Linked DNA regions of Homo sapiens: regions 1, 3 and 4 are each reported to be linked to region 2. Evidence: microRNA targets listed by miRTarBase, many of them from high-throughput screens and not tested one by one. Region 2 holds a microRNA gene; each other region holds the end of a gene's coding sequence.

Region 1 (4,000 bases), not on the chromosome of region 2:
GTAGAGGGGTAAATAGCTGCTGGCCATAACCAGGAGCTCCCTTTACCAATTCTTATCACAACCACACTCCTTTCCATATCTGAAAGAATCTCATATATGGCCTAATTTAACCTTTTAAGTTTACGAATGGGAAAATTGGGGTTCAGAGACAGAAAGTGACTTGCCCAAGACCATACAGCTAAGTTAGTGGCAGGGTCAGGAGCAGATAAATTACTACCAATGTGCTTAAACATGCCCTAATAATCACGCTTCTGTTTCTCCCATTTGAAGCGCTGGGGTGAGTCCCCAACACAGGGACTCGATAGACACTAGTTTTGGTTTAATTCATGGTCTGATTTCCAGAAAAATCATATCATGCTGAATCAGAATTGGTTTTTCCCAGAGGACAATCAGATATCTGACAGTGACTTGTTAGAGAAATGTATGATTTTCCCACACTTTCCCACTGCAAGGAGAGTATGTCTGTTGCTTTGGCCATTTGCAAATTGGCATCATGGGATTTACTCAGTTCTCTTTGTGAGGGTTGTCATCCTGCAGTGATTATCTGATCACTTCCCTCCTACCACCTCCCCACACTTAGAATTCATTTTTCTTCTACCTGCAGGTTAACTACACATCCCCCTTGGTGGCAATGCACTTTACAGACGTGGTGAAGAACCAAGCAGTGCCTGTGCAGTGCCAACTGAAGGGCAAAGGCGTCATAAATGATGTCATCAATGATCGTTTTGTGGGCAGGGTAATCTTTACCCTGAACATAGAAACTTAAGAACTTCAGGGGGCCATTCTTACCAGTTCTGTTTCTGTTTTATCTCATGGTATCTCTGGTAGCACCTGAATTCTTTTTCTTCAATTAGGACACAGCCAGATGGACATCTAAGACAGCCGATCATCTTTCCTTGCCTATGACATGTGTATAAAATGACATTGTGGGAGCTGTTCGATTTTTTAAAGGTAGTGTCTCCTGATGACAAACAGAGTATATTAATTTCCTTTCCCTCCACTTAAAACTAAAGCCTGTTCTTGCTGCTGGTAATCTCCCTGTAGCGTAAACATAGTATCTGATAAAATTTACAATAGCCACGCAATAGCCATCAAGGAGAATTTCTATTATGATTATAAATTCATCATGTTTTCTAAAATTCTGTTGGTTTTAGAGGTCAGATTCCTCCCAACCAGGCTAATAACCTAACACATGTTTAAAAAAAATCTGCCTAAGCCGGGTGTGGTGGCATGCATCTGTAGTCCCACCTATTCAGGAGATTAAGGCAGGAGGATCACTTGAGCCCAGGAGGTCAAGGCTGCAGTGAGCTGCACTGCATTCCAGCCTGGGTGACAGAGTGAGATCCTGTCTCTGAAGAAAAAAAAAACCTGCCTGGCAAGGTCCTTCCCTGGGAATCACCACTCGGTCCAACCTAGACAACCAAGACCGCTATACCTAAAGACCTCTATATCCTGGTGCCTAAGAAACTTCTGCCTCCCACAGACAACTAAGTGCTTATTCAAAGACTAGGTTATTTTCAACTGGGAAAAAAGCAGTGCTAACAGGATATTGTTCTGGGATAGAGATGAAGACCGTCCTTGTGACTTTTTAAAGAGGTGGGGCTCACTGCAACTGGGGAGAACACTTAGCATATGGATATGATTGGTGTTTGATTCCTTGCTCTCTGGTGTAATCGTCTAAAGGCAAACATTCCTGCAAACAGGTTTTTCTCAGCTTCAGGCAGAGGAGACAACATGGAAGAAGATTCCCACCAGCTAATTCTTCTTGGGCTATTTGTTTGACAGTAGCATGATGTTTTTTGAGACCATCAGGGGTGGTTACATAGACCAGCAGCTACAGCTCTGGAAATTGAAATCATAATCTGTCAATGAATACATGACAAGACAGAACGTTCCTTGCCAGGCCAGGCAAAAGCCAAGGCCCATTAGCCAGTTTAGCATTTACTTTAAAAATGACATGAGGCAGATTCTTATCCAGGATGTGGATCAGCCAGGTCACTTTGTCTTATCTTTGGTCACCTGATCACTCAACTGCTTCTTAACACCTCCACCAGGGGGAAGGCTGGCACAAGGAGAAAAAAAAAGCAAGCATCAGCGAATAGTATAGTGTCTCAGGGTCCGAAGCAAGTTTAAATGCCACCTAGGAGGATCCAAAGTCTGAATCTCCTCTACAATGTTTCCTTTCTCCCAAAACAGGGAACTGACTGTCTGGTAGTGAAGACAAGCAAGTGGAGAAGTTATACGATATAGTTTAATGAGAGTTAAAAAACTAGTATGTGGAAAGCTATGGGAATATGAGGAAAAATATCTTGAGCTAAGAAAGTAGCAGAGGAAATTTCACATGCAAAGCCACAGTCATGAAGAGACCATGGTGTGTCTGGGTAACTGTGAGCAGTTTATGTAACTGGAATGAAAAGGGCTCAGAGGAATGGCAGGGATGGCAAGAGATCCAGCTAGAGAGGTATTCAGGGATGGAAAGAGGACTTTGAGTTTTATCCAATAGGTGAAAATGAGTAATTAAAGCATTTTAATCAGGGAGGCTCTGTGATCACATTTGTGTTTTATTTTATTTTACTTTATTATTTATTTGTTTATTTTTGAGATGGAGTTTCGCTGTTGTCACCCAGGCTGGAGTGCAGTGGTGTGATCTCGGCTCACTGCAACCTCCACCTCCCGGATTCAAGTGATTCTCCAGCCTCAGCCTCCTGAGTAGCTGGGATTACAGGCACACACCACCATGCCCAGCTAACTTTTGTATTTTTGGCGGAGACAGGGTTTCACCATGTTGGCCAGGCTGGTCTCGAACTCCTGACCTCAAGTGATCCGCCTGCCTCAGCCTCCCACAGTGCTGGGATTACAGGCGTGAGCCACCGCACCCGGCTTGCAATTTAGAAAGGGCACTTGGCAACCACTATGTGAAGGGTGATTGGAGAAGGACAAGACTGTGGAATGGGGAATAAGGAAGGAGGAGTTTGGAGAATGACTCCAAAGGTTTGAGCTTGGCTAGAACCGGTAAGATGGTGACATTGTTGATCAAGACTGGGAATATAAGAGAGAAGCAGGTTTGGAGAGATCAATTTTGAACATTTTAGACATGATTTTCTATTGGTCAGACATTGATGTGGAGATGTAAACACATGTAGGGTTGGTGAGAAGGAAAGATGAGAACAAAAGCAACATTGGGTTAAGGGAACTCGCTTAAGAAATTTTAAGCTATTTAATCTTGGGAACTGAAGCCAGTCATGTAAACATACTATACCAATCTAGTCCCTAACAGTGTTTTTTCTCTTGTGGCAGAAAGAATTGCTGTTCCTCTTTGGAATCTCCTTCCCAGACACCTTCAAAGTCTTATTGACACAGTAAAGGGAGGCCAACCACTACTAACAAGTTCTAGAAGATATAGGATCTTCTATAGTAGGTTAATGGAAAATACAAAAACAAACAAACATACAATGAAACTGCCTCCTCTCAACCCATTTTCTTAACAAATTCAATTTTCAAAACTAACCTTTAAAAAGAAAAGGAACAAAATGAAAAAGACAATAACTTTTAAACCACTTGAAAATTACCTCAATCAAACTCTCAAGATTCAGTAGTAAAAGATAATAGAATGTTAGATCTGGAAAGGATATTAGAGAGTGTTTAGAAAAAACAACTTGCATTGCATCTGACTCCAGGTCCAGTGCTCTTTCTACTCTGAGCTGCTGCTTACCAGAAAGTACCATCTTCTTAAAAATCAATGAATGATATCCCAAACATTTTGAAACGTATGTAAATTTTGAGTTAAAATAGTTAACATTTCACAGGAATTCAACTACTGGTGCTATACTTTATACATAATACATTATCCTGTTAAATGCATTGACTATTAGACAAGGAATTATGAATCATTTGTCAAATAATATTTATCTTTCAATGGAATCCATTGTGTCCACAATTGCAAAGCAATATTGAAGGGTACTAAGATAGTTTGGGTTGTCAGCTAGGACATGAAAAATGT
Region 2 (4,150 bases):
AAATTTGTTTACAAGATTTAAAATATCAGACACCCTAAAATTTAACTGGGAGTGATTTTATCAAATAATGTATCTCACACACATTTTAAGGTAATCAGGAACCAGTTTGTAGCTTCCTGCTTCGCATGCTAGCTAATCACTTTTCTTCTAATGGTAAATAAGGCCCTTTTCTTAATACATTGTACTACGTTTTATAAAACTAAAAGTTAAAACTGCATTTATGGAATTCAGTAGAAATGTGGACATCATAAAACCTATGTGCGTGAGTAGACCTCAATATTCCTTTTGAGACTGCTCCATCTGAATACTCATCTTACAAAAATCTAGTAATAAACTGAATCGTCAAATGGCTTATTTCACTTTTTAAAAAGACCCTTCTCCTATAATATATACACGTTTTGTCCCAATTACGAAAACATTTGCCACCCAATAGAAACTATTTCCTGAAATCAAAAATGAAACTAAAAACATATTAAAAGCCAAAATATTTCATCATTTAACAATGTGATTTAATAGCATTTCATGACCTACAGTCAGGCAGTAATTTAATATTTTGGACAAATGACTGTTTCTTAGTATAATTACAACAACTAATACTAAATAATACTAACTTCCAAAAAGAAAAGAAAAAAAAGGATTGTAAAAAAGACACATTCCACATGTTACACGGTAAGGTACTTAAAAGAAATTCCTGAATCTAGGTCGCATGTCCATATTTCCCCCAACCTCAACAAAAAAAAAAAAAAAAAAAAAAAAAAAAAGCCTATTCCCAAGGGTCATAGGGACATAATGGATTCATTCTCATTACAAGAAAACAAAATACTGAAAATGATTGGTACCATTAAGAAAAAAATACTCTAAAGTAACATGGTCCTACATCTGCCTCTAACTTCATTCGTCTCTAGTTTACGAAGATGTGAATTTTAAACTGCTCCTTTAAAAGCAGGCTGACAAAGCAAACCTTTTTAAAATTAATTACGTGGGTTTATTTCCATGATTCTTCTCTATAATGTTTTTCCTCGTGTGAATCAAAAACAAGTTGAAATCACAAGTTTTCTATTAAGAATAGAAAAATCTATTATCCTTAAAAGCAAAACTCCAATAACTAAAGATCTGAAAGCAGTGGACAGCAGTGTTCAGCCTAGGATTCACAAGATTATTTGTTAAATTCAGCCCTTCCTTCACTCTGACAAGTCTCTAAGGTATGATTATTGTTAAAATACCTCTTCCTAAAATAAATGAGTTACATAAAAATATACATACAACGACTGTTGTTCCTCTCTAACAGATTAGGATTTTTTAAACTTTCATAGCATTAACATGAAAGAAAAATTATTTGGAAAAAAAGACACCCAGCACAACTTGCTTAGAATATAGTTTCCCTAATTCATCGTGTAAGCAGTTCAAACAAGGCTCAAATTACCTAATCTAACAAAACAATGAAGAAAAAAAAAAGATTATGGGGCATTTCTGTATTCTCCACATCAAAAGCAAATATGAAATGATTCTTAGTATTTCACAGGAATATCTCATTTTTCCCCTTTTAATTATTGTTATCTGCACAAATATGTGGTTTCCTCATTTCGTTTTTTAAATATGTCAATTCTAACCAAAACTCCTCATCCACAAATATCTTTGAACAGTCAGAACTGATAAATCACAAAAAAATGAAGCTTAAATCTTGTTTATCAGGTGAATTACACATCACCAAAATATATTGCTGCCTATCAAAATCTTAAAAAAATTTTAAGGTTTTATTAAGCTGCGTGTGCTGACAGAATTCAAATTTTTCCATAGTTGAATTTGTAAAGGGAAGACTTTTATAAAGGCTTTACAAATCCAAAAATTGGTAAAATTCGTGGTTTACTTATTTTTCAATGGCCTTATCCTCAGCCTCCAATTAAAGTCTATGATATATGTAATGTGCATATTCTAAGACTATCATCAAAGATCTGAATTTTGTAAATGCCCAATACTGGACACCAGCGAACTGTTTTTCTGTATTTGATCCTCTTATTAATAACTATGATTCATAATAGTTTCAGCTTTAAATACTGAACCTTACATTTGCTTGTAATAGAGCTCAGTTATTATTTGTGGCAAGAATTTTTGTGACTGTACTGCTCAGCACTTCTATTTACATCAGCAGTGCTAAATGCCCAATGGTGAGAGGGGAGCCAATCAGATGGCAGATTAGATGTCAACTCAGAGGCAGCTGTCTGGAGACTATTACAGCCAGTTTACCTCCACAATTCAAATTCCAAACCTTGCAAAGGAGATCAAGTCAGTCTTTAGGCTCAGCCTACTAGCAAGAAACAGCAAGAGTGCAGGACACTTCCTAACAGCGCTGTAGGACTCGGGTGACAGCAAAATAAAGAAAATCCAAATAAATACGATCCCAAAAGATCAATTTTCACTGGTCTGCTATCTTACTGGATTTGCTGAATAAAATGCATGCCTAATCCATGATCAAAATAAGTTCAATTGATCCGGAACGTGCTCCTTTCACATAGCCTGCCTGTTGAAGGTGACTCCCTGCAAGCAGCCCGTAAGCCCAATAATGGATTTCCCTGGCTATTCTAAGGAACGAATCGATGTATTTTACAATATTGCACCTCCATGTCGTTGTAAATTTTGTTATTATTCCTACCAGCAAACGTTCGAGCTCGAAGCCCGCACCGAGTGTCTCTGAATGGCTCTCCCTAAGTAGGAAAAACCCACTCGCTTGTCACAAAGCTAACCTATTTTCCCTGCCTGGACCTCGGAAGCCAAGAGGGAACGTGCTGTGGCTAAAGGTGTGAGAAAGTTCCTCATTCTTTCCCCCGTTAAAGCACATTGTGGGCGCTCCCAGAACCGATCGGGTGGCTCTTCGCCCCAGCCGTCCTGGCCGGGAGAGCCTATTTGTTACAAAAGCACCCGAACGGTCCCCGCCGCCCCAAACGGCGACCGCGCGGGTGGCGCCTCGGGATCTCGCTTCGCGTTCCCGGGCCTGGGGGAGGGGGGGGACGCGGGTGCGGGCCGGCGGGGTAGAAGCCACCCGGCCCGGCCCGGCCCGGCGAAGCCCTCCCAGGCCTGGACAGCGCGCCGGCCCCCGGGGCGCCCCGACCGCGGCGGGAGGCGGCCGCCCGTCAAGATGGCTTTGGGCGCCGCGCCCCCGCCGCCCCCGCGGGAAGACGGGGAAAAGTACGCGGCAAAGAAAGAAACTCAGGCTCGCGGCGCGGCGAGGCCGCCGGGCGGAAGCAGGCCCGGCTGGCGCGAGGGTTACCTGGGATCTGCCCATGGTCGGTCCGGGGGTGCCGGGGCTCATCGCCGGGTGACTCCTTTGTTGCGCGGCCGCCCAGGCCGGGCTGGCAGCGGCGTACTGGGCGCCCATGTCCTTGCCCAAGCCCATGCCCGCGGCCGCCTGCTGGCCGCCCGCCGCCGCCCCCGCCGCCGCCGCCTGGGACTGGGGCTGCGACGGCGGCGGCGGCGGCGCGCTGGGGCTGCTGTACTCGGGGTAGCTGCCGCCGTAGCTCCGCATCATGGGGCTGGGCGAGGTGAGCAGCTGATTGAGGGTCGGGGTGGCCCCCGACGGGTGCTGGTTCTGGCCGGCGAAGCGCTGGAAGCCCCCCGCCGCCGAGCCGGCGGCCGCCTTGCTGAGGCTCGCGGCCCCGCCGCCCCCGGGGCCCATCATCATGCCGCCGCCCTGCTGCCGGGGGGAGCTCAGCACCCCGTACCCCGCGGACGAGCCCCCATAGCCGCCGCCGCCGCCGCCTCCTGCTGCTGCCGCCGCCGCCGCGGCCGCCGCCGCCACAGCTCCCGCTCCTGCTCCTCCTGCTCCTGCTCCTCCTCCTCCTCCTCCTCCTCCGCTGCCTCCTCCTCCTCCGCCGCCGCCGCCGCCGCCGCCGCCCGCGCCGGGCCGGCTGTAGCCCGGATAATGGTTGCACTGGCTGTTGGGGTACCCTTCGTGGGAGTTCTGCAGGGGGTCCATGCTGCCGGGGGCCCCGGCGGCGGCGGCGGAGGCGGAGTGCATCATCCCCATCCCGGGGCTTTGTTGTCCGCCATGTTGATCAAAGCAAGGCCCAGCGCGGCCGCCGGGGCCGCCGCTCGCAGGGGCAGCGCTGCCATAGTAATTATTAAACTCCGGGACGGCCGCCGGGCCGCCGCCGCC
Region 3 (4,000 bases), not on the chromosome of region 2:
GTAAATGTGTGTTCGGAGTGTTAAAACCTGCAGCCCCACAGGTCTCCAGGGTTTTTCGCACGTAATGCCCCATAGCATCTTCATTTTACAGATGGTAAACTGAGACTGTAAGAAACCAAATAAGTACCAAAGATCCCACAGCTAAGAACAGACACCTAGATTCAAACCCCAATTGCCGTGACCCACAGACCACAGTATACTCCACTCCTTCTTCAGGGTGCCCCAGAAGGGCTGGCAGATTGGGTTGAAATTAGTGAGTTTGAGGCCTAGGACAAGACACAGGGTTATGGTTTAGGCCTGCAGGTGGGGGCTGGGAAAGCCACTCTCCCTGCCTCCCTGGGCATTCCGAAACATGGGGAAGATAGTTTCCACTTGGCTGTAGAAAATCAGATCTCAATGTGAAAGTGCTGGAAAAATTACTCTGAAATCTGGGTTTTTTCCTCTCTGGGTGGGACTGTCTGTTCACTAAAGGGATGCCCAGGGAATTTAACCCTAAATTTCTTCTTCTTTTGAGACAGGGTCTGTGTCACCTAGATTGTGCAGTGGTGCAATCATAGCTCACTGCAGCCTCAAACTCCTGGGCTCAACCACACCACCATGACTGGCTAATTGTTTTCTTTTCTTTTCTTTTCTTTTTTTTTTTTTTTTTGAGATGGAGTCTTGCTCTGTCACCCAGGCTGGAGTGCAGTGGCGCGATCTCAGCTTACTGCAACCTCTGCTTCCCGGGTTTAAGCGATTCTCTCTTGTCTCAACCTCCTGAGTAGCCAGGACTACAGACATGCGCCACCACACTCAGCTATGTTTTTCTGTTTTTTGTTTTGTTTTTCTTTTTTTTTTTGAGACGGAGTCTCACTCTGTCGCCCAGGCTGGAGTCCAGTGGCGCGATCTCAGCTCACTGCAAGCTCCGCCTCCCGGCTTCACACCATTCTCCTGCCTCAGCCTCCCGAGTAGCTGGGACTACAGGCGCCCGCCACCATGCCCGGCTAATTTTTTTTGTATTTTTAGTAGAGACGGGGTTTCACCGTGTTAGCCAGGATGGTCTCGATCTCCTGACCTCGTGATCTGCCTGCCTCAGCCTCCCAAAGTGCTGGGATTACAGGCATGAGCCACCGCACCCGGGCCATGTTTTTTTTTTGTTGTTGTTGTTTTTTGTATTTTTAGTAGAGACGGGGTTTCACCGTGTTAGCCAGGATGGTCTCGATCTCCTGACCTCGTGATCCGCCTGCCTCAGCCTCCCAAAGTGCTGGGATTACAGGCGTGAGCCACCGCACCCGGGCCATGTTTTTTTTTTGTTGTTGTTGTTTTTTGTATTTTTAGTAGAGACGGGGTTTCACCATGTTGGTCAGGCTGGTCTTGAACTCCTGACCTCAAATGATCCACCCGCCTCAGCCTCCCAAAGTGCTGGGATTACAGGTGTGAGCCACTGCGCCCGGCCTGTTTTCTTACTTTTAAATTTCTTGTAGAGATGGGGGTCTTGCTATGTTGCCCAGCCTGGTCTCAAACTCCTGGCCTCAAGTGATCCTCCCACCTCAGCCTCTTCAGTAGCTGGAACAATAGGCATGTGTACCACCACATGTGGCTAATTATTTTTTATTTTTTGTAGAGATGGGGTGTCACTATGTTGCCCGGGTTGCTCTTGGACTCCTAGTCTCAGATGATCCTCTTGCTTCAGCCTCCCAAAGTGCTGGGATTACAGGTGTGAGCCACCATGCTCCGCCAGAATCCAGTCCTAAATTTCATTGTGCCCATGGCTTTGTCTTCCCAGGAGCTCCTGTGCTCTAAGCAACCAAGAGGAAGCATCGAAGTTTCAGCATCACTGGTCTCTGTCGCCATCTCCCCTCCACCTCATACCCTGTGCAATAGCTGGTGATGTGCACTAGCCCTCCCCGCCACCAGAAGCCCTAAGGGGTTGAAAGCAGAACCCCATTTTAGACACCCCTCGCCAAAAAACATAGTCCAGGATACACATTTATTCTCTGTGGAAAAAGAAAGAATTTGACTTTATTTAGAAAGTCTACAAAATACAGAAGACGATAACTCGCTTGCTGTAAGTCAGGAAATAAATAAATTCTAGGAGCCGGGCAATATTTTTTAACTTTTTTTTTGAGACAGGATTTTGCTATGTTGCCCAGGCTGGAGTGCAGTGGTGCGATCTCAGCTCACTACAACCTCTGCCTTCTGGGCTTAAGTGATCCTCCTGCCTCAGCCTCCCAAGTAGCTGGGACTACAGGCATGAGCCACCATGCATGGCTAATTTTTGTATTTTTTGTAGAGATGGGGTTTCACCATGTTGTCCAGGCTGGTCTCAAACTCCTGGACTCAAGCGATCCCCCTCCTTGGACTCCCAAAGTGCTGGGATTACAGATGTGAGCCACCGCGCCCGGCTTAAACATTTTTTGTTGTTGCTCTCCGGCTTTCCCTAAATATAAGATAAAATGTGATTTATTTGCAGATATAAAATATAAAGCCCAGCTCAGGGCCATACGCCACTTTTCCCAGGGAGCAGGAGCTCGGGCTCTGGCTGGGGAGAATAACTTAGATCCGTGCAATAAATAAACAGTGGGGAGGGGCAGTGTGGACAGTGTTGGGGGAGGGACTGAGACTGGGCTTCCCAGGAGAATGACAATCAAAGGCAGGGGTCAGCCCCCACCCCACAGTGGACACTGACAGGGGTTGAGGTGGGACCCTTCTTCTTAGGACCCCACTCCAGACTGTAGTAGGACTGCAGGGTCTGTCTCCTTGTCTCCCTATTTGCCACAGCAGTCCATGGCCCCCTTTCTCTGACTGGCCAGCCCCCGGACACCCTGGCTGCAGGGACAGCCTAGGGCTGAGCCAGGCCAGCTCCTTCCCACTCTTCCATCCGTGTCACCTTCTCTCTCCCTCTGCTTCTCTCCCCCTCCCTTGCAGAGAGCGGTCTCCCAAGCCAGGGAGGCCCTCCCACCACATTTCTGAGTCCCTGTCCACTGTCCCCCTGAAAACCATGGCTGGACTCAGGGCAGCAGTGAGGACACCCAGGTTTTGGTCCCAACACAACCACTAAGTGAAATGTGACCTCAGGCCTGTTTCCCCATCCGTGAACTGGGTTTCACTAGTCTTCCCACCCACTCTTTTAGTTTCGGAAGGCCAGGCACCCCCAGGCCCAACCAGAGGTGGGGGCATCTCTTCAGTGCAATTTCTCAGCAGGACGGTCCCGTAAGTCACAGACAGCCAAACCTAGCTTTGAATCCTGGGAGGGTTTGGAGGGCATATTGGCACAATAAGAGCAGTTTCCAAGATGAGGGGTGCCCTCTTCTCCCCCAACAGCTGTTCTCTAAGCCGGCTCTGTATCTCTCAATCTAAAAAGGCTAAACTTTCAGCCAAGGGCGATCCCAGATCCAGACCTCTGCCCCATCCCCAACCTACCCAAGTTCCCCTTCCCAGGGTCATTCGGTCCCAGTTTGGGGGGCTGCAAGAGGAAGACAGGGCCCACGAAGGGAATGTGTGTGCACCAAGGGGCCAGTGCTGCAGAGAAATGGGACCTGGGCACAGAGGCGGCGCTCAGGCACTTTGGGGAGGGAGCTGAGGCCGGAGGGGCGTGGCTGAGGCATGGCGGGGGCGGGCACTAGGAGCAGGAGGCCGGGCCGTGGGCGGGGTCCGGGCCGTGGGCGGGGCCAGACCCCGAGCCCGGGGTGGACTTGACGATGGTGATGACGCTGGCCGGCGCCACGAGCGTGGCGGGCCCGCGGGCGGCGGCCACGGAGCGCGCGAAGCCCTGCAGCGCCTCGCACTTGCCGCGCAGCGCGTCGAGCTCCAGGCGCATGGCGGCGTTCTCGCGCGCCAGCTTGTCCACCTCGCGCTCCAGCTCCGACTTCTGCTTCTGCAGCTCCTCCTTCTGGCACACGCGCTTCACGCGGCAGCTGGCGGCGTAGCCACGGTTTTTGAGTGTGCGGCGCCGCTGCTTGAGCCGTGTCACCTCCTCGGCGGAGAGCCCGCGCAGATGCCGGTTCAGCTCGCGCACCGA
Region 4 (4,000 bases), not on the chromosome of region 2:
TCCTCCCCCACCTTTCACCAGAGAAGAGGACGTTGTCACAGATAAAGAGCCAGGCTCACCAGCTCCTGACGCATGCATCATGACCATGAGACACAACTGGACACCAGGTAGGCCTTGGGGCTACGCATGGGCAGGCGGGGTAGGGTGAGGTCTATGAACAGAATGGAGCAATGGGCTAACCCGGAGCCTTCACTCCAAGGCAAACCACCCAGCGCACCTGGTGCTGTTGCTTTAAGAACCTGGGCAGATATTGTAGCTCTGGCTCCAGTCTAAAGCTTCTCTGTACTCTGTTCAATAAAGGGCTAAGGGGTGGGTGCTGAGGGGTCCCTCTTCCCGCTCTGATTCCCTGGCTAGAACCCAGACATCTCTGGGCTGGAGTTACATCCTTACCCGGGCAGCCCACTCTGTCTCCAGAGCCGCTGACCTGTAACTGTCCTTTCCTCAGACCTCAGCCCTTTGTGGGTCCTGCTCCTGTGTGCCCACGTCGTCACTCTCCTGGTCAGAGCCACACCTGTCTCGCAGACCACCACAGCTGCCACTGCCTCAGTTAGAAGCACAAAGGACCCCTGCCCCTCCCAGCCCCCAGTGTTCCCAGCAGCTAAGCAGTGTCCAGCATTGGAAGTGACCTGGCCAGAGGTGGAAGTGCCACTGAGTAAGAAGCACAGTGGTGGAGGGTGGGCTATGGGCACAGAGGTTCCCAGGGTCGGGTTGACTCCTGAGCGCCAGTCCCCTTCTGCCCATGTACCACCAGCTGAGCCAGCTGGGCTGAGCACGCACCATTCTCCCTCCCCAACCCAGTGTCATGGGTGCAGGCTTGGCGCAGCTCCCAAGATGCTCCCTATCAAATAGGACAGAGAACTCAAGACATAAGTAATGGTCACAGGACCTCCCAGAGCCTTGGTTGCAGTGGACCCCAAGGCCAGCCCCTCCACCCAGAGCCTGCTGGCCTCTGGCCATCTCAGAGGAGCAGCAGCCATCCAGCACTGCCTTTGTCACCTGGGCTCCCAAGTCACCGAGGCTGGGCACTAGAAAAGGTCATCCTGAGGAGACAGGTTCAGAAGAGGATTCATCACGTGAACCAAGGACCATTCCTCACATTCCCCGTGTTTAGGGCTAGGGCCTCTCGGAGACAACTGCACTTCTGTAACGGACGTTCCCACCTAGGTGGTGTGCAGAGCAGTTCTCTAGGTTCCAGATGCATGGGGACTGGGGGGAGCTGGCAGGGAGGGCACAGCAGAGCAGGGTAGGGGAAGGGCCTGCTCTTCTGAAGAGCTAACTGCTGCCTGTGTCCCTAGATGGAACGCTGAGCTTATCCTGTGTGGCCTGCAGCCGCTTCCCCAACTTCAGCATCCTCTACTGGCTGGGCAATGGTTCCTTCATTGAGCACCTCCCAGGCCGACTGTGGGAGGGGAGCACCAGGTGAGGGTCGCAGCAGCCAGGTGGGTGGGAAGGAGGCCTTCTGCGGCCTTCTCATGACCTTTCCTTCCCTTCCGCTCCAGCCGGGAACGTGGGAGCACAGGTACGCAGCTGTGCAAGGCCTTGGTGCTGGAGCAGCTGACCCCTGCCCTGCACAGCACCAACTTCTCCTGTGTGCTCGTGGACCCTGAACAGGTTGTCCAGCGTCACGTCGTCCTGGCCCAGCTCTGGGTGAGGAGCCCAAGGAGAGGCCTCCAGGAACAGGAGGAGCTCTGCTTCCATATGTGGGGAGGAAAGGGTGGGCTCTGCCAGAGCAGCCTGTGAACTAATGCCCAGCATTCCTCAAGGTCAGCCAGACAAAAAGGAACTTAGGTCTTGGGCAGAGGAGGTGTAGCCTGGGGCAAAGTGATGAGATGTCCCTCCTTTCCTTGGCCTGATCCTTGTCTGCCTTCACTTCCCTAGGCTGGGCTGAGGGCAACCTTGCCCCCCACCCAAGAAGCCCTGCCCTCCAGCCACAGCAGTCCACAGCAGCAGGGTTAAGACTCAGCACAGGGCCAGCAGCAGCACAACCTTGACCAGAGCTTGGGTCCTACCTGTCTACCTGGAGTGAACAGTCCCTGACTGCCTGTAGGCTGCGTGGATGCGCAACACACCCCCTCCTTCTCTGCTTTGGGTCCCTTCTCTCACCAAATTCAAACTCCATTCCCACCTACCTAGAAAATCACAGCCTCCTTATAATGCCTCCTCCTCCTGCCATTCTCTCTCCACCTATCCATTAGCCTTCCTAACGTCCTACTCCTCACACTGCTCTACTGCTCAGAAACCACCAAGACTGTTGATGCCTTAGCCTTGCACTCCAGGGCCCTACCTGCATTTCCCACATGACTTTCTGGAAGCCTCCCAACTATTCTTGCTTTTCCCAGACAGCTCCCACTCCCATGTCTCTGCTCATTTAGTCCCGTCTTCCTCACCGCCCCAGCAGGGGAACGCTCAAGCCTGGTTGAAATGCTGCCTCTTCAGTGAAGTCATCCTCTTTCAGCTCTGGCCGCATTCTGCAGACTTCCTATCTTCGTGCTGTATGTTTTTTTTTTCCCCCTTCACTCTAATGGACTGTTCCAGGGAAGGGATGGGGGCAGCAGCTGCTTCGGATCCACACTGTATCTGTGTCATCCCCACATGGGTCCTCATAAAGGATTATTCAATGGAGGCATCCTGACATCTGTTCATTTAGGCTTCAGTTCCACTCCCAGGAACTTTGCCTGTCCCACGAGGGAGTATGGGAGAGAGGGACTGCCACACAGAAGCTGAAGACAACACCTGCTTCAGGGGAACACAGGCGCTTGAAAAAGAAAAGAGAGAACAGCCCATAATGCTCCCCGGGAGCAGAGGCCACTAATGGAGAGTGGGAAGAGCCTGGAAAGATGTGGCCTCAGGAAAAGGGATGAGAGAAAGGAGGTGGTATGGAAGACTCAGCAGGAACAAGGTAGGCTTCAAAGAGCCTATATTCCTCTTTTTCCCACACCGATCAAGTCAACTCAGTACTCACGGGAGAAAAATAGACTTTATTTACAAGTAATAACATTTAGAAAAGATCCATCCCCGGCCCTTAAAAACCTTCCCATCACTCCAAATCCCACCCCAGTGCAAGTCTGGGGAAGGTAGGGTGTGAGCTGCTGCTGAAGGCTGTCCCCCAACCCCACTCCTGAGACATAGGGCCCATCCGTCCTGGGAAAGAGCATCCTCTGGCAGGTGCTCCCACCAGGTCAGACCCAGTCCTGGACTTCAAGAGTGAGGGCCCCTGCTGGGCCCAGCCACCAGGACAGCAGGAACCAGGGCCTACTCCTCTTATGGTCCCTTCTAGATCCAGAGGCTAAGAGGAAGACTGGCCAGGCCCAAGGACCCAGCCATCAAAACCAGCCTCAAATCTGGTTGTGATGGAGAAGTGACTTTGCTTTAAGAAAAAAGGAGGCAAGGTAGGGAGAGCGCCCACACTGTCCATGCTCCAGGCCCCCTGGGCCAGCTCCGAGAAGGCGCCAGTGAAGGACCAGGGACCAGGCCAGGGTGCGGGCAGGCATCACTGTCTCTAGGGGTTTGGCTACTGTTGGCCTGGGAGCTGAGAGAAGGCACTGAGAGGGACAGTAGGCGGAGGACCAGGTGAGGTCAGCATCGGGGACACAGGTGGGGCCACTCACTGGTACTGGCCCTTTAGTGCTTTGCCTGAAAGAGACACAGTCACATGGCCAGATGAGAACTTGCGATACTAGCCTGCACCCACTGGCTGGGAAGATCTCTTCCTGCTCCCACGCCCCTGTCTGGATCCCCTCCCTTGTGAGCCCCAGGGTTATCAGTTGCTGGCTGTGCCTGAGCAGCTCTGGGTGCTCTCCATGAGAATGGGGCCATCTGTCTTCTCTCCTTGGAGAGGAGCTACCAGGACAGGGACACCTCTTACCCCACACCCTCCAGCAGCCTGGCGTGGCCCCATCTTGGATGCTACTTGGTGGGGCGGTCTGGGGGGTGCCCATGCTCTCATCGGGTTTCCCTCCCCCATCCTGCCAGTGCCTCTACCTTGCCCTTGGCTCGAGGG

What was found. Region 2 holds the annotated microRNA hsa-miR-4466 (GGGUGCGGGCCGGCGGGG, at 3,010-3,027, shown strand). A microRNA usually pairs through its seed, bases 2 to 8, with sites in the 3' UTR of a target mRNA and lowers its output. Matches are read on the target gene's strand: a 7mer-m8 pairs with bases 2 to 8, a 7mer-A1 pairs with bases 2 to 7 and ends in A, and an 8mer does both.
Region 1: miRTarBase lists ATP1B4 as a target of hsa-miR-4466. Seed matches in the 3' UTR shown: 7mer-m8 at 2,871-2,877.
Region 3: miRTarBase lists MAFF as a target of hsa-miR-4466. Seed matches in the 3' UTR shown: 7mer-A1 at 2,145-2,151.
Region 4: miRTarBase lists NUMA1 as a target of hsa-miR-4466. Seed matches in the 3' UTR shown: 7mer-m8 at 3,477-3,483.

Annotation. Positions count from the first base shown.
Region 1 is chrX:120,378,869-120,382,868 of GRCh38, forward strand. It overlaps ATP1B4 (ATPase Na+/K+ transporting family member beta 4), which reads left to right. Exons shown (of 8, transcript NM_001142447.3): 8 at 605-4,000. The coding sequence ends at 766. Among named protein-coding and RNA genes, the nearest start is that of ATP1B4, 19 kb to the left of the region's middle.
Region 2 is chr6:156,778,587-156,782,736 of GRCh38, reverse strand. MIR4466 (microRNA 4466) reads left to right here and starts at 3,006; the gene lies at 3,006-3,059. It overlaps ARID1B (AT-rich interaction domain 1B), which reads right to left. Exons shown (of 20, transcript NM_001374828.1): 1 at 3,266-4,150. RefSeq lists silencers at 2,876-3,045, 3,076-3,765, 3,836-3,885, 4,106-4,150 and an enhancer at 3,607-4,142.
Region 3 is chr22:38,214,480-38,218,479 of GRCh38, reverse strand. It overlaps MAFF (MAF bZIP transcription factor F), which reads right to left. Exons shown (of 3, transcript NM_012323.4): 3 at 1,973-4,000. The coding sequence ends at 3,602. It also overlaps a transcript of TMEM184B not described here. Among named protein-coding and RNA genes, the nearest start is that of SNORA92, 8.2 kb to the left of the region's middle. RefSeq lists an enhancer at 1-274 and a silencer at 3,508-3,877.
Region 4 is chr11:71,999,906-72,003,905 of GRCh38, forward strand. NUMA1 (nuclear mitotic apparatus protein 1) reads right to left here. Exons shown (of 27, transcript NM_006185.4): 26 at 3,982-4,000; 27 at 2,959-3,633. The coding sequence ends at 3,622. IL18BP (interleukin 18 binding protein) reads left to right here. Exons shown (of 6, transcript NM_001039660.2): 2 at 22-107; 3 at 446-652; 4 at 1,296-1,419; 5 at 1,500-1,647; 6 at 1,879-2,899. The coding sequence starts at 80. The coding sequence ends at 1,956. Among named protein-coding and RNA genes, the nearest start is that of IL18BP, 3.0 kb to the left of the region's middle.